Linked DNA regions of Homo sapiens: region 1 is linked to region 2. Evidence: fine-mapped expression QTL. A gene starts in region 2. The other region holds a variant in brackets. All regions are shown on one strand. Distances are from middle to middle. Region 1 overlaps SPATA6L (spermatogenesis associated 6 like). Region 2 holds the start of SPATA6L (spermatogenesis associated 6 like).

Region 1 (4,538 bases), 39 kb before region 2:
CCACCTGGTCTCTGTAGGCTCTGCCACTGGAAGGTGCTAGAGAAAGTGCAAGGCTGGAGGAGACACAGTGACTGGCTACTTCCAGTTTTGCATTCTATTCCTGTTAGCATCATTCCTGCAACCATTCTTCGCCTTAACAGCTGCAAATGGCTCCAGATTATAGCCTTTCCCCTATTATGCCAGGACTAGCCCCATTGCACTCCTCCAGACATATCAGCGGCAGCTGACCAGAGCCCCCTGTTCAGATTTGAGTCTAGACCCACAGGAACCTTCCTCCAAGCTCCTGTGGCACCAGCAGTGAGCAGTGCCCCTCCTTTGAGATCTGAGTTCCAGCTCATCCAAGTCCCACCTTCGAATTCCTGAAGAAGCATCCAGGAAAGCAGCCCTTCTCCAGAGGTCTGGGTCCCATTTCTGTTCAGTTTCTTCTTTAAGCTTCTGTGTTCTTGCTGAACCAACATCTTCCCTTTGTTTCCCCAGCCCTAGGGGTGGAAGCTGCTTCCTGCAGTTACTCTGTCATTTCAGTGTTCCCCTTTTATCTTTCAGTCTTTCTTTCAACCCCTGTTTAGCCATTTTTAAAAATTAAATCTTTCTGTTACAGTCACAAGTTTGGTGTGGTTTCCTGACTGGACCCTGGCTGATATATCAGTTAAGTGCTCAACAAAAGGAAAATGAATGGCCAGACAGATTACAGTACTTCCATACAATGGAATACTATGAAGCCATGAAAAATTGTCTGGCACAAGAGTACCTGAGGACATGAGAAAATGTTTATCATAAATTAAGTAAAAAAAAGAAGGGTACAAAATAATATGCAATGCAGCGTGATCTCAATCTTTTTTAAAAGTGTGATGTGTGTACAGAATATACTAAAAAAATTAATGCTGATCTCTAAATGGCAAGAATGAGACAGTTTTTTTTAAGTTTTGGGTCCTTTTTGCTTATTTATCTTTGTTTTCTAATTTTCTAACATAAAGTGATACTTTTGTTTTAAGGGAAAAAAAAACAGACAGTGTGGTGGCTCATGCCTGTAATCCCAACACGTAGGGAGGCTGAAGCAGAGGATCTCTTGAGGCCAGGAGTTCAAGAAAAAAAACAATAAAACTATTTGTTTAAAAAGTTAACACTGAAAGAAGGACCTAGGAAGTTAAAACAGCATTAAGATGGTAGAATGGAAGAGAAAGAAACACTGAAAAATTGCTATGAACACATCACAAATAAATTGGAGAGAAGAGAGGATAAATAAGGCAAAACTAAAAAGCAGATAATGCCTTCCTTAAAATTAATCATTGGTCTCCCATTATATGAGTTATTTAGCTAAGAGTTTTGATAGATTTGCACAGATTATTGGCCCTTCTTTCTCATTAAGTATTCTGTAACATACAGCCCACATTTTCAAGGTCTTTTCTAGGACCCTACATGAGATCTGGGATAAGCATTTTGTTTCACTTACAGGTTTTACTCTACCCTGTCCCAAAGTATTTGGAGAAGCTTCACAAACTACCTTTATTCCTTCTCCATCTTGTTCTAGAAAGGATTTTAAGTGGCAACAACATTATATGCAATAAGGTAAAAGCAAAACAGAAAGAAATTGGGGTGAGGGAGGCAGACACTAGGACTGAAGAAGCAAGTAAAATTGAGGTAGTACACATGGATGCCCTAAGACGCTTCACGCTTACCAAAGACGGACCATGAATACAATCCGAGCATCAGCCTCAGCAAAAGAAAGGTGGCCCCATGTTTACTGCAGCACTATTCACAATAGCCAAGATTTGGAATCAACCTAAGTGTCCATCA[A/G]CAGATGAATGGATAAAGAAATTATATTACATACACATAATGGAGTGCTATTCAGCCATTATTTTTTATGTCTTGCAACAACGTGGATGGAAGTTGAGGCCATTATATCAAGTGAAATAAGCCAGGCACAGAAAGACAAACTTTATATATTCTCACTTATTTGTGGGAGCTAAAGATTAAAACAATTGAACTCATGGAGACAGAGAGTAGAATGATGGTTACCAGAGGCTGGGAAGGGTCATGAGAGCTGAGGGGGAGTGGGGATGGTTAAAGGGCACAAAAAAAAAATACAAAGAATGAATAAGATCTAGTATTTGATAGAACAACAGGGTGACTATAGTCGATAATAATTTAACTGTAAATTTTAAAATAACTAAAAGAATATAATTGGATTGTTTGTAACTCAAAAGATAAATGTTTTAGGTGATGGATACACCATTTACCTTGATGTGATTATTACATACTGTATGCCTATATCAAAATATCTCATGTACCCCATAAATATATACAGGTACTACGTACCCATAAAAAATTAAAATTTCTAAATTTTTATTTTATGTTTATTATTTATTTATTTATCATTATTTTTTTCTGAGATGGAGTCTCACTCTTGTCACCCAGGCTGGAGTGCAGTGGAGCCATCTTGGCTCACTGCAGCCTTGACCTCCCAGGCTCAGGCGATTTGCATGCCTCAGCCTCCCCCGTAGCTGGGACTACAGGCGCACGCCACCATGCCCAGCTACTTTTTGTATTTTTGGTAGAGGTGGGGTTTCACCATGTTGCCCAGGCTTTTCTCTAACTCCTGACCTCAGGTGATCCACCTGCCTCGGCCTCCCAAAGTGCCACCATGCCCAGCCTAAAATTTTTAAATTTTTAAAAAAGAAAGATGGAAACTGTTGTTCATAAGATCACAAGTAAATGTCATAGAACAACAATAACAAAAGCTAATTAGCTCACTTACATCAAATTTGTAATTTTAGCTTCTGAATCACCCTGCTTCCAGCTACATCATGCTGCCAAACGTATGTACCAAACATACTCTAATATGACTGGCTGAGCAAACAGTTTGAATTATAGAAATACAAACCTAGTAAAAACTTTCCAGGTTTCTACTTGTTTAGTTTCATGTAAACTTAATAAACTGAGTTTGGGCAAAAATTCTTTAAATTTGAAAAAAAAAAATCCGGTCATTTCTATCACTAGATTTGTATTGTACTTACAAGAAATCTGTTTCTATGCAGAAACACACATTCTCTGATGGCTGTCCTTGTAGAAAACTCTATTTTGGGAGCAATGCCCTATAAAACAGCATAAAAAAAGCAAATAAAATTACTAGAAACAGTTCTTTAGCCATCTCCTTCTAACTTGAAATCATACAAGAACCTAACTGCTCTTCTGTGTGGCATAATCCACACACATTATCTAAAATATATATGTAATAAGAATAGCTAAACACTTATGTAATATATATTATGTATCAGAGCCAGGCCTAAGTAATTCATATATATTAACTCATCTAATCCTAACACAACCCCATGAAGCAGGTTTTATAATAGTATCTCCTCAACTAAGACACAGTTTAAGTAACATGTCCATCTAGTAATGAGGGCTATTAATTGAACCCAGGCATTCCGGCTCCAGTGTCCATGATGTTAGCTACTCTATTTAAAACACTGTACCATGGAATTGAATGAGATTACCTAGAGAGAGGTATGAATACAGAGCCTTCCTCTCTACCTACCTGCTTTGAAAAACTTGCTTTATATTTTATATCAGATATTTATATTCATTAGATCTAATTCCAAATTCATTTTGTTTCATTGATTTTTCTATTTCTATTTTTTGTTCTTAGTACCATACTGTCTAAAATATTGTGTTTTATATATGTGTGTGTGTGTGTATATATATATATATATATATATATATATGCCCTATCCTGTTTAATTCTTATAATCCTATAGGGTAGGTACAATTATTACAATCATCCTGTTTTACAGATGATAAAACTGAAAAATGGGCAAAAACTAGAAACAATCCAAACATCCTTAATGGGTGAACAGATGAACTGTGGTGTATTTACATAATGGAAACTACTCGGTAATAACAAGGAACAAATGAATGACACACACAACTACATGGATGGATCTCAACAGCATTCTTCTAAGTAAGAAAAGCCAGTCTCAAAAGGTTACAGACTGTATGATTCCATTTATGTGACATTCTCAAAAAAACAAAACTATGGTGATAGAGAAAAGACTAGTGCTCAGGGTGAGGGTGAGGAAGTGCCTATAAAGGGGTAACATGAGGGGGATTTTAGGAGGGATGGGATTGTTCTACATCCTGCTCGTAGCAGTGGTTTTACAAATCTATACATGTGTTAAAATTCATAGACCTGTAGACCAAAAAAGCATCAATTTTATTGTATAATAATTTTTAAAATACAACTGCTTTCCCCAAAAAACAGGCCTAAAGAGACATTAAGGCAATTTCCCCAAATTTACAAGGTTTATAAATGGCACCACAGGGACAGGACCTGGATCTGACTAAATTACACTGTCTCCACCTGACCCCATCGACTCACCAGTGGCCCCTCTGCATCACCTCTCTGCTCTACTCTCCCCCAGAGAACACCACCTGGCCAAGTTACTTCTTGCCCTGAGGGCATCTTCCTTCTTTTCTTTTCCATCCAAATTTTACCCATCTCTCAATGTCTGATCTCACTCTAACTCCTCCAGGTAAGCCCA
Region 2 (4,217 bases):
CAGCATCCTGAATACCGACTACCTCTTCACTTGCTAAAGCAGCTAAACTGTGAAGCTCTAAGTGGTTTGGGTTTGTTGTTTAACCTTAGCGAGATCCTTTAACTGCAGCAATATTCAAGCCAGATATTTGGAAGCAAATGATATTTCCTCTTGCAGTGTCCACAAATCTGAATATTAGGGGCATGAAATTAGGCTTACCATCTGATTTGTAATTACAATTTTGGAATTCTCTGTTTTAGTTGCTGAGGCCTGAGTTTTCTGGCTCTTAAAGCATAGATCATTTCACCTGATGTTTTTGAAGCATCCTAAGTACAGTAGAGTAGAAAACTGATTTCTTTGTTAATTGTACACTGAATAATGCCTTTTAAAAATCAAAATAAAATTAACAAATAATGGTGAATGAAGTGAGATGAAAACTTGCTTAATTTTTGCCTTGATGAGGAGGGAGACAGATTTATCACTTAGCTTCTCAAGAGTTCCTTCTTCCTGCACAATTTTTAGAGCTTAAAACTGGTATAGCACTACTAATAAGGTCTAGCCCTATTTGCTGTCAGCAAAGTGGGACAAATCCAGGAAATGTTGATCACCTTTCACACCCACATGTATGATGAAACCACACCATTTGCCAATTGTATGGAAGACAACCAGATTCCATGACAATTTCCTGTTAGCACTGTGCTTGTAATCATAGCCAGTAGAAAAGCCCCTAGAGGAAAAGCGGCATGATATTCTGTTACTAACTACATGGAAGGATTGGAAAATGGAAACTGAAATAAGAGGGAGTGACAGACCCCCAAGTAGAAACCATGGAGTCACTCTGCCACAGCACTTCACTTAGGAAGGATTTGGTAATTACGAAATAGTGATTGATTGATTTCCCTTTTGGAATTAGCAAGCCAGAGCTATCACTAAGGGGAAATATCATAGAAAATATCTGATTGGTTCATAGAGTTGGCAAATAATCAGGAAGTGATGGAGCTTTTTAAAATTATTCCCTGGTTATTTAAAGAAGTTGAAAATCCTTTCACAAATCTTTATCCAGGAGAAGAAAATAAATTCTACCTGGACTTAATGCAGGGTTGTTTGAAAAGAAATTAAAAATTCATGATAAAGATAAGAAACATGTTAGCTTTAGAACAGAAAAAAAAAAAAGTGGGAACAGGTGGAGCTGAATTAAAGGTTAGGAAGTCAGGGAAAACCAATATGGAGAAAAAGACAAAGGTGCGATCTGTCCCAGAAGATAATGATGTGTTTGTGGTAAGTGGGGGATGTGGGGGAGGGTTGTTGAAAACCACCTGAGACTATTTAGAGTCCGACTTGAGGTTAAGGAGGGGGAGTTCATCGATCTCTTACCGCCCGGATCTGCAGCTCCACCACCACCTCCAGAGGCATCGTTCCCTGCGTGGGCGAAAGGACTGGAATGAGAAGATCCTTTTGTGCCGAGCCTTGGACCAATTTTTCTTAGTTTAGCTGAATACCTAGAGCAAATGTTCCCAGAAGCTTCCCCAGTCCCACGCCCTTGTTCCCCTACCGTCCCCCCCAGCCCAGGTCCCTCCCACCGGGACGGGTCTCTCACACTCGAAGCTGGAGTGCAGGCTTCCAGAAGGCGGAAGCGTGGCGTTGCCAGGGACACTCAAACGCGCAGTCTTCATCGTGGAACGCGCGCGAGGCCCCAGCGCAGACGCGCGCCCTCACGGTCGCTGTTGCCCACGCAGTGCCCCCAGCCGGAGAGACTGGCCCTGTCTGGCGTGCTAGACGGATAGAGAAATGCTAACAATCCCGATCTTCTTTCCATCAGCTCCTGCTATCCCCAATTACCATGTCAGAATGTTTACCGTTTTCATTCTGAAAGTAGAATGAGATCATAGGTCTGTTATAATTTAAATAGTACACGTTTAGTAGCTGCACGACCCCAAGCCTTGTAGTTTCTGTAACAATTCTCATTTAATATAGTTGCCTGTTCCTAAAAATACTCTTTTGCTTATTAAATGTTATGTTTGCTTCGGAAAACATGGCCACCGTCAATAACAAACGTGTGCTAATTAGAAATATAAGGTTAATTCTTAAACATATTTAAAAGTTAGGTATCCCCTGTTAGCAGCAATAGAAATATGTCAGTCTTTCCATAACGGTGTCCAGCCTTTTCTGGGGTTTAGTTTAAGGCAAGCATTGAGTAGTCCAATGGGTAGTTATTGCATTTGCCAAAACCACAGTTACTGTAAACACTGTCAGAGGTGGTGCGCAGAGCAAGAGTTCTGAATGAGTAGGGGACATTCACTACATCTAATAGAGAAAAATGAAGGAAAGGAGCAGGTAGTGGCTCCTTCTAGCAATCCAAAAAATCTAGGAAGGCCAATGCTGCCTCTGAAAAAAAAATTTTAAATCCTAAATTATGTTCAGTCATTTATTACTAATATTTTGCATTAGAGAGTTATACAATTGGAAATAGTGCAGAAGGATGGTCAAGACAAGATTGGGTATTCATTTTGGTAACTGGAGTTTATTTCCCTGGAAGGGAAAAACTTGGTATGATGAAGAAGGGCATATTGTATCCTTATCCAGTTCCTAGTGCTGTGTCTCTCTGCATATCAAGAGATACAGGTGGGCACCTAACTATCTATAGTGTCCAGATCATTGATTTGTCACTCACAACTTGCTGACACCCAGAGTGATGTGGGACAGGACCTGTGATGATCCTAACAGGTAGGTCACCAACACCAATGCTAAGAAATCAAGGAGAGTGACAAGCAAAACAAATTAATAAATAGCCAGAGTTGTATTGGGAGAGAAGAATCAGTCTTTACTGAGGATCTGCAAAGTGCTAGGCACATTGCGTATGCTAATTCATCTCAACCCTACAATAACTCTATCAGGGAGATATTATCCCTATTTTACAGATGCAGAATCTGAAGCTAGACAGCCTTTTACTAAAAGCCACAGACCTAATAAGGGAGCAGCCACATTTGAATCCAGGTGTGCCCTACCACATCACTGGGTCTGCAATATAGACATCCTGTTGATCTCTAGAGACACAATGTTCCATTCTATGCTCTTCTTAGTCTTAACTCTTGATCTAACTGGACTCTCCTTGCTTGGCTGCTAGGGCACAGCTCTCTTCTGGTTTCCCTCCAACTTTCTGGCTATTCTTTCTTTGTCTGTTTATCCTCCTCTGGCTAAGCAATGTTTCTAGGTCCTTTCCTTTCCTCACTCTATACCCTTTACTTAGAGTGTCATCCATTGCAGACATTGATTAACACATGTATACAGATTTACATACCCCACCAAGACCTCTCTTCTGCTGACAAGGTGGAATCTCAATATCATATCTTATGTCATACATATAAATATATATATCTCCTCTTTGTAGCGACTGCCATAATAGCAGTTTTACATTTGTTCCTGTGACTCTTGATTACTATTTGTCTCCTTAATCTGTAAACTCTGCATGGCTAAGCGTTTATACCCTAAATAGGATAGAAGATAATAAATATTTTTGAATATTAAATGCAGAGATGGTCAAGCCAATCTGTGGGGGTTAATGTACATGGATAAAGAGAGGTCCCATCACAATGGGTAAAAGAAATCTGCAGAATTAGAAAGGACCAGGCACAGCTACTTCTGCAAATCTGCTATGGTGATATTAAATGAGTTGATGGGGATACTTCACACTCTCCTAATTGTCCCCGCCATGGTTACCTGAGGCTCTCAGCTGCTGTGGAGATGTGGCAGTTGCTATACACACCCAGTCCCTCTCACTCATCTTGCAAAGTTATTTATCATTGAGGCTGTCCACCTCTGCCGGGGGCCAACAAAGCCTTTTAAGGATTGGACTGTCACCACTTCAAGAGAAAGCCTTTATTACCTGGGTAGGTACCTCTTGGTGGCAGCAAACAGATTTCAATGAACAACTGCTATTTCCAGAGAGTATCTGCAGTGCAGCTTGGCCAGCAGTGACATCAGCATTGCAGAAATGATACAGCAGCACATCCCGTTCACATCCTGGCCCCAGACAAGAAAATGAAACATGCCCCAAATGGGGATTTTCCAAAGAGTAAATTAACAAAGAACAAGAATATGACAGATAATTATGGCTGAGATTTTTTTTTAACTAAAAAAATTAATTATAAGACAAAAATCATAAATATTTCAAATAATAAGTGTATTCATATGAAAGGAAGAAACTATTAAAGAGACAGCACTAGTGGGAAGGGTATGGG

The links.
Region 1: its variant is fine-mapped to the expression of SPATA6L in testis (GTEx, PIP above 0.99).

The regions. Positions count from the first base shown.
Region 1 is chr9:4,626,077-4,630,614 of GRCh38, forward strand. SPATA6L (spermatogenesis associated 6 like) reads right to left here. Exons shown (of 12, transcript NM_001353486.2): 5 at 3,015-3,092. Among named protein-coding and RNA genes, the nearest start is that of PLPP6, 34 kb to the right of the region's middle. The variant A/G (reference allele first, on the strand shown) is at 1,795.
Region 2 is chr9:4,664,859-4,669,075 of GRCh38, forward strand. It overlaps SPATA6L (spermatogenesis associated 6 like), which reads right to left and starts at 1,622. Exons shown (of 12, transcript NM_001353486.2): 1 at 1,354-1,622. The coding sequence starts at 1,392. It overlaps PLPP6 (phospholipid phosphatase 6), which reads left to right. Exons shown (of 1, transcript NM_203453.5): 1 at 1-400. RefSeq lists silencers at 1,411-1,460, 1,471-1,550.